Regions from separate parts of the Homo sapiens genome. Here region 2 is linked to region 1. Evidence: fine-mapped expression QTL. A gene starts in region 1. The other region holds a variant in brackets. All regions are shown on one strand. Distances are from middle to middle.

The links. PIP is the estimated chance that this variant, and not a neighbour inherited with it, causes the effect. A credible set is the group of variants that fine-mapping cannot tell apart.
Region 2: its variant is the best candidate, but not a certain one, in a credible set for the expression of TSC22D1 in whole blood (INTERVAL, PIP 0.67).

The regions. Positions count from the first base shown.
Region 1 is chr13:44,573,710-44,579,081 of GRCh38, forward strand. TSC22D1 (TSC22 domain family member 1) reads right to left here and starts at 2,621. Exons shown (of 3, transcript NM_183422.4): 1 at 1-2,621. The coding sequence starts at 2,365. It overlaps TSC22D1-AS1 (TSC22D1 antisense RNA 1), which reads left to right and starts at 2,187. Exons shown (of 3, transcript NR_038381.1): 1 at 2,187-2,561; 2 at 3,333-3,468; 3 at 4,393-5,372. RefSeq lists an enhancer at 2,094-2,333 and silencers at 2,654-3,363, 3,374-3,613, 3,884-4,083, 4,264-4,313.
Region 2 is chr13:44,265,907-44,271,278 of GRCh38, forward strand. No RefSeq gene overlaps it. Among named protein-coding and RNA genes, the nearest start is that of MIR8079, 72 kb to the left of the region's middle. The variant G/A (reference allele first, on the strand shown) is at 2,461.

The DNA of each region.
Region 1 (5,372 bases):
CCAATTGTTGAGGAAGGCTTGGAGCACTAGTTTGAACTCCCTGATGAATAATCCCAGTTTGAGCAGGTGGAACCACTTGCGAAGATGGAGGAGCACCCTGCTGAATAACTGAAGGTGGAACCTGGGTAGAGGGCTGCTGCACTGCAGTAGGTATGTTTGCTTGCTGACCAATATTTGCAATCTGACTGCCAGTAGGTACAGCAGACACTGCTGCCGGAGCCTGGCCAACAGGCTGGACAGATGCCCCTGCAGGTTGTGCTGGGACTGCTGTGGGCTGCACTGGCAGCTGGATACCCTGTGGCTGAGCCACAGGAATCACTGTTGTTCCTGCTCCTACTCCTGCAGAACTGGGCTGTCCGGAGGACATTGCTGTTTGAAGAATTGGCTGCTGTTGTACATACTCTGAAGCAGGATTTTGAGTCACTGATTTGACATGGCCTGGGGCCATCTGTGTAGAAACCATTGGTTGCTGTTGTCCATACTGTAACTGTTGGGGTGGTGGTGCCCCTGGAAGGGGAGTTTGCACTGGAGGAGCCGCCTGAGAATATGGTAGCTGGGGTTGAGCCAAACTGGAAATGGAAGGCTGCTGACCTAAAGCTGAAGTTACACCAACCACATTTACAGGCGATGGCTGGATACCAGTTGCAGCACTCATAGTGGCTTGCAGAGGTACTGGCTGAAGACCTTGCTTTTGCTGATAGCTCAGTTCTTGAGACTGTAATTGTACTTGTGAGATCTGTGACTGAGAAATACTCTGTGGTATACTAACTGCTGGAATACTCTGTGGACCAGTGCTACCAAAATCCATCTGTTGGAGGGTCACACCTTGGAGAGCTGGTTGTTGCTGTTGTTGTTGTTGTTGCTGCTGCTGCTGCTGCACCACCACAGTAGGGGCTCCCATCTCTCCACTTCCCACACTCTCTGTATAGTGACTCAGTGTGCTGACACTACTGCTCACTGAACTCCCACTAGTGCTCTCCCTTTCAGAAGTCACTTCTATCGGATTTTGCTTTACAGTCTCCACCACTTTATTTATCAGCACACCTTCTGTAGCAGGTACAGCATTTTCTTTTTCATAGAACTCAGTGCAAGTCCATCTACCTTTTTTAAAGGGCTCAGAACTAGAATCTAACTTCACAACTCTGAACCTCGAAGTGTTAACTGTTGGTTGTTGCTGCTGACTTGAAACCGATCCCCCAGTCATCCCTGCAGCTGCATTAGGAACACTGCTAACAGCAGCAGAGGAAGAAATAGTACCATTGCCCATGCCACTCAAGATATTCACATTAACACCACTGGTAACTCCAGGCCCAACACTCACACCAGCAGCACTAGGAATATTGCTTGTACTTATATTAACATTACCAAGCATGCTGCTTGTCACATTAGGATTAAAACTACCCACAGCAGTAATGTTAACATTATTTACTGTACTAGTGCCAGTAACAGAATTTATACCTATTCCACCTGTAGTACTTGGAGCACGCATATTAGTCATTACAGATGCAGGTGAACCACTGGATGATACAGCAGAAGTTGGTGCAACTGGTGTGATACTGTCAGAGCTTCCAGTTGTAGAGAGTTTTCTAGATACTGGGCTTGAGGGTGGCCCACCAGTAATGGATGCACTGGCCACAGCAACATGAGATGGATGGTGGTGACCATGTTGGAGGTGGTGCCCATGATGAATCTGATGGTGGTGATGGAGGTGGTGTGGATGAGCATTCCCATTGATCACAACATTCTGTTGTGGAAGGTGAGGCAAATGAGGCTGAGGAAGGTGGGGCTGGTTGGGAGAGACTGCCCCAGGTGTCTCGGCTTCCTGGAAGTTATTTAGGGTCTCTTCTGAGGAGCTGCGTTCGGGCTCCCCTAAGTCAGTAGCCCTGGAAAGTGACACATCAAGGATCTCCGAAGAAGAGAGATCTTCCGTGTGAGATTCATCCAGATCATCATAGCTCTCAGTGTCCTCTGCTATACTGTTGTTAGAGCTGATACTAGCGGAGATCTGAGCAGGAGTAACGCTAGTTATCTGGAAGCCACTTTTCTTTTTCATTTGAGTTCCGCCTGGCGCAAGAGGCTGTGCCTGCAGCTGAGCCTGCGAAAGGAGGTTCAGGCTTTGTGGAGGCGGAGGCTGTGGTCCCGACGTAGAAGATGCTGCAGGGGGCGGCGGCTGAAGCAGCGACGGAGGCGGAAAATCCTCGGAAGATGTGGCATTACTACCGACGCCGGTACCTGCTGCATTGAGAGCAGAGGCGCTGCCACTACCGCTGCCCCTTCGAGGGAACATTGCCGGGTGCGCCATCTTCCTAGCGCTAATGTCTGCAGCGGCGGCGGCCGCGGCGGTGGACTCAGGCGGCTGGTGCATTGTGTTGGGTACCGGGGGCGCGGAGGAGACGAGTGCAATTTCCTTCTGCACCGTAATCTTTGTATTGGAGACGCCGGAGAGGAAAACGGGACCTGACGCTCCGCCTGGCGCGATTCCTCCTTCTCCTCCTCCTCAGCCAAAGGCGCCGGTCGCTCCTGCCTTCGAGAGCGAGCTTCGGAAAGGAGGATGAACGAGGGTGAACAGGGCGGCCGGGGACCCGAAGGGGGGATCCCTTCAGTCCTTCGCCATTCACTTTCCCCTCTAGCCTCACACCCCCCTTTATATTCTGCTTCACGTGGGGTGCGGGGCAGGAGGGAGGGGGAGAGCGCAGGAAGGGGAGGAAAAGCGAGAAATGCCCACCTTCTCCGGCCAACTCCGAAGCCGCCTCAGCCCCCTCCTCCCGCCGCGTCGGCGGCCGCTGCAAAGCCCTCCCGGCCGCTCTGCACGGAGGCAGCGCCAAGCAAATGTCGCCTTCCCCTCGCCACCCCCGGGGCCGCCGCCGCCGCCAGCGAGCCCCGAGCTCAGTGTCGCTCAAACCTCCCCTCCCGGCCCCGCTCGGCCCTCCCCCCGCGCCCCGCAGACCCTTTCAAACCCCCTGGGCTCGCGGCGGCTGCTCGGTGAGGAAACGCTGGCCGCGGCTGGGGCCGGGGCGACGCGGCTGCGAGCGGGGCGGCGGCGAGGCGCCCGGTACGGTGAGCCCAGCAACGAGGCGCGGGCGGGCGCGCAGAGACGCCGGGTCCTCGCGGAGCACGGCCGGGGCGCGGCGGCGGCGGTGGCAGCGGGAGCCCAGGGACCGCTCCATCACTGGCAGCCATGGAGCCCGAGCATTTTCCTCCCTCAGGGCAGGCGCCTCGACTCGGCACACGTCCTCGGGGAGGAAGGGGCCGGCACCCGAGCCTCTCCGGAGGGCGGCGGGACGTGCGCTAGGGCGGAGGGTGCGACCCTCTCTTATCCTCTTCCTCCGCAGCCGGCTCTTCCTCACCCCGCTGCTCCCGCGACCGGGCGGGAGAGGGCCGCAGGCGGCGGCGGCTCCTTTCTCCGCGGCGTTGGTGGCCAGACGGGCTGGTGCAGCGACTGCAGCCGACGCCGTTCAAAGGAACGAGGTGGGGTTGGTCGGTGTCGGCAAACGGGGCGGGGGAGTGAGTGGGTGCCGAGGGAGGGTGTCGGGCGGGGAGGGGGCTGTGGTGGTTGTTACTAGTGCTCTTCTTCGGCTCCCCCGGCTCCACCGTATCCCCCAGTCTCTCGCGGCATCGGGAGGGGAGGGACCAGCGCGGAGCGCAGGAGGAGGAGGGGCGACCGCCGGCGAGAGGAGGCGGTGGTGGCTGGGGGGAGGGGGCAGGCGGAGGAGGAGGAGGGAAGATGGCGTCTGCGCATGCGCCTCGGCGCCGCAGACATAAAGCCGGGTCTGGCGGGGCAGGAGGCGGCGGGTCTTCGGGCCTAGGCGAGCGCCAGGTCTCCCGACGGAAATTACCGAAGGCTGGCAGAGGCGCCGAAGCCGGGAGTGGTGGAGCCGGAGGGGATAGTGGGGGTGGGGAATTCCGGCCGAAGGAGCGAATCCGGGTCGGACTGCGTGATTCGGCCCGGTGGGGGCGGGCAGGGTGCGCGCCTGCCGCGCGCCCAGGTTAGGTGTGTCCGCTCTTTTCACACTCGCGGCCGGCGCGCGCGGGCACGCGGCAGAGGAGGGGGCGCGGCGCGGAAGGGCCGGCGGAGGCGGCGGGAGCGCCGGCGCTTGGTGTGCGCGCCTTGGGTGGTGTCCCCCGCCTGCGGAATGGGTAATGAGGCTTTTCTCCGCAGCAACAGCATCACGAGTTTCAGTTCCCAGGAGCCCGCCGCCGCGGCTGCTGCCGCTGCCACGACATGAGTCAGGCTTTCTTCCCTGGCGCGTGGCGGAAACCTCCTCCCCCTCGCCGCACCTGGGCTCGCCCCCGGCCCTTGCCTCCTCGGGGGATGCCCTAGGGCCGGGAGCTGTGGGGTCTATGGAAGGCCGGTGGCTCCCGGTGATAGGTGTTGTCTTTTGTGCAGTGCAGTTGCTGCCATGCGGTCCCCTCGCCCTTCCACGGGCAGGGGCGAGGCGGCCGGGCAGATGTTGCAGCTGTTTCCAGTTAACTGCCTGAGCTCCTCTGGGCTAGGCTCTTCTCTAACGAGGAGTGGTTGCAATCCATCCTTAACTGGAGGACAGAAGCAGGCCGGCCCTGTAATCGACTGACCTCAACAGGTGTCTCCAAGCAGCGACGCCTTTTTCGTTCATCGTCCTGGCTATATCCCCCATTGGTTTGACTCAGGAGGCAAGGTGGTCCGGACATGTGAGCAACACAAATGATAAGAATGCCTTTTAGGGCTAGAAAAGAAAAAGCCATCCGAAATTCCAGTTTTAAAATACACACACACACACACGTTACATTTCATGGGTCCAAATGTAGTTCTACAGAAGCAATGTTAGGTTTGATTGGGGGCAATTTACTGGCGGTTACTTTCTTGGTATTTCATGTCAAAACCTAGTTCTAAGCGTTTCTTACCAATAATCGAGAATGTAAGTCTTTCCCAGGAATTTAAAAATGATAAAGCAAGCCGAAAAACTGTAGGGAGGAATTTTCATTTTGTTAAATTTAGGTTGTTAGGGGAATCAACGCTTATGGTTAGACCTCTGATTCAGGAAGTCTCAAGGATTTACATTCCTATTTCAGAAGATTGTTAAAGCAAAAACGATTGTCATTTGCAGTTTTGATACACCTCTAGTTGTCAGTTCAACTTTTTACCTTTAGTTTTCTCTGAACTCTTCCCCTTGTTCCAAGGGGAAGCTTTCAAAAAGTGAATTATGTCACCATTTGCATGTTATTGAATAGAAGTGCACTCTTAACATCCCATTTATCCAGTGTCAAAGCTATGATACATTGTTGCTTTATGTGGGGTCTCCCACACTGAAAAGAAAAACCCGGACTTCATTTATTTATTTATTTATTTATTTATTTATTTATTACTTTATATTGCTAATGTAAACCTCTGCTAG
Region 2 (5,372 bases), 310 kb before region 1:
GTCAGACAGATGGTTGTAGCCACAATCCAGGGCCAAATGTTGAAGCTCTTCAGGTAGCCTTGTTGTCTACACCCTTAGGAAACAAGCATCAAGCTGTCTAAGTTTAAGAGAGTGCCTGCACTTGACAAAAGAGTCTAAATTTAGGGAGGGTCCCCCTCCCAGAGGATTCCCTAGTCTGCCAGCCTCACAGATGGTCATACCCCAGGGCTGCTGCTTCAGGACAGACCTGAGGCCAAATTTCCTAGGGGCAGTGGGAGAGAGATGATGCAGTGTGATGGCCAAGCCCAGCACAGAGCTTCCCATGCACTCAGGTCTAGGGCTGTGGGCAGGGATTCCCAGATCAAGAACTTCCATTCAAGTTTTGATGTCAGAATCTGAATGCAATATAAAAAGAAAGCAGCTTCCCATGTCCCATGAAAAAGAGCACCACTGCAGGACAGTCTGTGGAAGATAAATCCACATGCAGGTGGGCTCACACACAGTCAGGGGTGCTTTGAACTCTCACCTGCTGTGTCTTCCCAGAGGCCCTTTGTTGACCCTACTCATCTGCCAGCAACACTGGAGGGTGCTGCTGAGACTCGCAGCCCCAGGAAGGGGACGTGCTAACTGGAGGAAAGACACCATTGTTATGCTGTGAATTTCAAATTGTTCTTCACCCTAAAGGCGATAGACTTTGTAAGTCTACTCAAAAGGTTGAGGTGGGAGGATGCTTGGGCCCAGAAGTTTGAGACCAGCCCAGGCAACATAGCAAGACCCCATCTCAAAAAAAAAAGAAAGAAGTAAGAACAACTGGTAAGAGAAAGGATTTTATCAGGGTTTCTAAAGCTTTAAAAACAAAACAAAACAATGTATAAAGACTCAAAGCTTTTCCAGCTGACCATGCATAGCAGGGCATAAAAGAAGGTATGCAAGGGAGCTCACACCACACAGAAAGAAGTGGAGCCTTCTGTCCCCCAAACTTCCCCTCCTCCCACTCCAGCATGTGGGCTTAGACCCAATCACAGAGGGGTGTGCTGGATGGGAACTGCCAACCAGCCACCCCAGCACAACAGTGGACTCAGACTGGCCAGGAGGGGGCTCCTGGAAGGTGAGCCTGAGGATGGCCTCACAGTGCCCTGCATACCCCTGTGTGATGAGAGAAGGAGCCACTGGAAGTCCACAGGCCCCGCAAGGACAGCCAATGCAGGAGGGTCTGGGGCACTGAAGAAGGACTAGTGTGGAGAAGGCAGGGAATAGATAATACCTGAGGAGGAGAATGAATGGGCACATGGATAGATGGCTGGCTGGGTAGCTGGCTGGCTGGCTGGCTGGATGAATGGATGAATGGATGACTGGATGGATGGATGGCTGGATGGATGGATGGCTGGCTGGCTGGATGGATGGATGGTTGGCTGGCTGGATGAATGAATGGGTGGGTGGGTGGATGGATGCATGGATGCATGGACGCATGGATGGATGGATGGGAGCCTGGCTGGATGGATGGATGAATAGATGGTTGGATGGATGGATGGATGGTTGGCTGGATGGATGGCTGGCTGGATGGATGGATAGATGGATGGATGGACAGATGGATGGATGGATGGATGGACAGATGGCTTTGGAGCAGAGAGTCAGAAATCTCAGTCCAAGGGGAAAGCTGGATCAGAAATGAAAAGTAGTATAAGGGCACTAAGGACAAAATGGCTGGGAGGGGCCTCCCAGATGACTTGCATTCAATGATTTGCTCTTTGCTGAGCCTTATTTTGATTGCAGCAAAAAGCCCTGTGGTAGATTCCCTGGGCAGGGAGAAAGAGGGGAGGAATGGAGCAGTTTCAAGGCTTCTAACAAGGGAAGCTTCTAGTCACTTGGATGTTACTCTCTCTTAGTATTAAGGATAAAATTAAAACCTACATAGAGCACAAATATACCTGTCTTTATATGAATCCTCTGCTATATAACTATGAGTTGAAAGTACCATAAGAAATGTCATCTTCATATCCAGAAATTAGTGCTATGTGCGAAGTACCCACATATAAAATAAAGCCCTGATTTAAAAGCTACTCTTGCTGTATCTTTTAAACCCTCACCTGTGATGATCTTTTGGGTATTTACCTATAAACAAATACTAAGCTCTATTTACATCCACACAGGAATTCCCCAAGGTAGTCATAATACTCTTCAAATCCCTAGTCAAATTTCATTTTAATGGAACGGTTCAGATAAAACCAACCACTCTGTGTTTGCCACATCCGCTCAGTAAGAATTCAACATTCTTGCCAGAAAGCAAAGAGAATGTTGTGATTTCACCCTGCCACTCCCTATATCTCAGCATTTCCAAAGACAAGCCCCACAGACCAGACCAGATTTGGTTTAGTTATGGAGTAGCACAGGAGGAATTTGCTCTAATCCGCTTCAAGATTGCCTCAGTTACTGAAAGTTATTTGTTGACGCAAAATCTAGATTAAGCAAAATGTGCTAGGA[G/A]GAGAATTGCTTTGTACTGCTGACATGAAACAACCAAGAGTTATCCAGAGATCCCCTTTTGTTTTAGGACTTCTACAGATTTGTCCTAAAAAAAATAAGTACTCTACCTCTTAATTACCACAAAAGAATATGCAAATGACACCTAACAACCCAGCTTAGATGAGTCAAGATGGACGGGCAGAAGAATGCAGTTTCTAAGGGCATGAACTCTGAAGATGGGCTACCTGGTTCACTCCTGGCTCAATCTCTGACTAGCTCTGTGATCTTGCACATCTCTGTACCTCTGTACAGTTTCTTTATCTCTACAATGGGAAGCTCCCAAAGTTGCTATGGGTATTGACATCAACAATGAGTTGATGTGTGTTACGTTCTTAGCATGGTACCTGGTTAGTGGTTTGCCATTGTCACAACTTCCACGGCTTTGAAAGATTCTCAATGGGAAGAGAAGTGAAAGACACCTGAACTCCCAGCTCAGGTGAATGGCAGTCTCCACTACACCCCGCCAGTCTGACTTCTGAAACCTGGCTGTCAGCTTTTCCTCTTGCTCCACTGCCAACACTTCGAACCCCTACATTCCTGAAGATGTAGATGCTAGAAACTGGACTGGATATCAACTGACCCCATAGAGCCCCATGGGAGTCAAATTTCTAAAATAAATAGTGCCAACAAAGTGAGAGTAAGTTTGCTCATATTCAGCCACCCAAGAAATGTCACATTTATTTATTTTAATCAAATCCAACTCTGAGCAATGGTTTCAAGATCCTGTCTCAGTACCTACTGGGGTTTTCTGACCTACCAGGGTCAAACAAAGAGCTGACATGATCTCTTGAAGTCTGAGTGCCTGGTACTTCCCAGCCTGTGTAAGGGGCAGAGGAATCCAATTGGTGCTGGAGCCAGTAGCCTCATTCCCTGGGGTTCAGTCCTTCTGGGAACTCTACACAACCATTTCTGCCCATGTCTTATTGCTAACCTGGGGTGTGGACAGAGAAGGGTGAAAATGCTGTCACTTGGTGGGTTCACCAATCTCTAACAGCCCCCCAGGCTTGGGATATCGTCTGCTCCCTCTCAGCTTCCACTTGACACCCCAAGATCCCTCATGTCTCTCTTCTCTGGGAGTTCACAATCTAAAAGACCTGTTGGAAAGAGAAACTTGGGATAAAATGAATAAAGTACAACAGAGTCTCACCCAACTGTATTCCTCTACCAGAGGACAGACCACAGATTACTGTCTTAACATATACCCTGACACACCAGCTGTGTGCCTTGGCTTGCTAATGTTTCTTGTAAATACTAATGTAGCAACATAATTTTGGTGAATCTAGGGTCCTGGTTATCTACTTAATCAGGCTTCAAAGTGCTTTATTTTCAGTGCACAGGGAAGAACCCTAACTGCTTACATTGTCTTGCTGACAGAAAAAGCTGATCTTATTTAAGAGTGGCAAGCATTACCTGGGCCCAGTTGGATACAGATATATCAGAAATGTATGTGTCTGTTTGTACACCTGAAAGCATCTCCCCAAAAGGGGGCTTTCAGCACAGGTGGCTTCCACTGCCCTCCTCCATCCCATCCTCATAGCAGACTGCCAAGAACCCTCTGGGTTACATGCACGTACATAGGCCCAGAATTGGTGGTGTGGAGGCAGGGACAGACAAGAGGACAGCAAAGAAAATAGACAAAAGGAAGACCCTGGACAAACTCATCCCCCCTTTATCAAATAATCTTAAACTATATTCACGTGTGTTATCTCTTTTGATCCTCACGACGACCCTGGGAAATAGAACTGACAATTTCCTTAGAGATGAAGAATCCACAACAGGCAAGAAGTAATTTACGTGCCCAAGATCATCCAAAGAGCATGTGAGGAAACTACACAGCAGTGTGATTGTCCCAATCCCTGGCTACAGTTGCTTCTTTTCATTAATGATGATGCTTCTCCTCCATAAAACTCAGCCCAGTCGCAAAGTCATTTTCATATCTATTGCATCATTTAATTCTCTCCCAAAAATCTAGAAGGAAAGCACTATTATCACTGCATGGGAGACAAAAGGTCAAACTGATGGTTGGCCCATAGTGACAGGAACATCTAATAAATAAAAAAGGAATTCTGGTCTCCAAATTCTCTGCTCCTTCCTCTACCTCCGAACTGTCTTTCCATGGGGCTCTATTCCATTGTCATTTGACTACCAAAAACATCATCCTCCAGAATCAGGATGACCGCACAGCATCAAATATGTGCCTACTGTGTCCCAGGCACTGTCCTCACATTGAGAATACAAAAGGCAATGAAAGAACCCCTTATGGGGGTCAAAGATCAGTGGGGGAGGCAGACTCGTGAACAGATAATTTGCTGTAAGCAACTAGTGCTGTAATCGAGGCATGCACGAGTACTCTGGAAATTCAAAGTCAGGGAGATTCACTCCACCTGCCCGGGAAGAGGGTGGAGGTGATGGGGCTCCAGGAGGCTTCAGTGGTGGTACTGACGCTTTCCACAATATTACCCAAACTTGGGAATCAGCTTACACACGACGCAAAAGCCCAGAGAACAAAAATAGTTTTACCTCCCGCAGTTTAGTGAGAGTCATGGAAATTACAAGTGCAAAAAAGCACAAAAGAGAGTGATCAGCTATACTGCTGACTTTTTCCTACTTTTGACAACTTAAATGAAATTGTCCTGAGTCATACTTACTACAACCTTTGACATTTCTTAGACTTTTAACAGGTACAAATCCTCAGCAGCCATGTTGTTTATCTAAATTCAGCCCAGAGTCTGTGTCATGGTTGCCATTATATCCTGTGCAAGGAACATGAAAGGGCCAAATTTAGTAGCAGATGATGAGTGTCAGGTCCAGGAGTTTCCGAGAAGCTTATGAAATCCTCTGTCTTGTTTACACTACATTAAAATCTCCCTTCC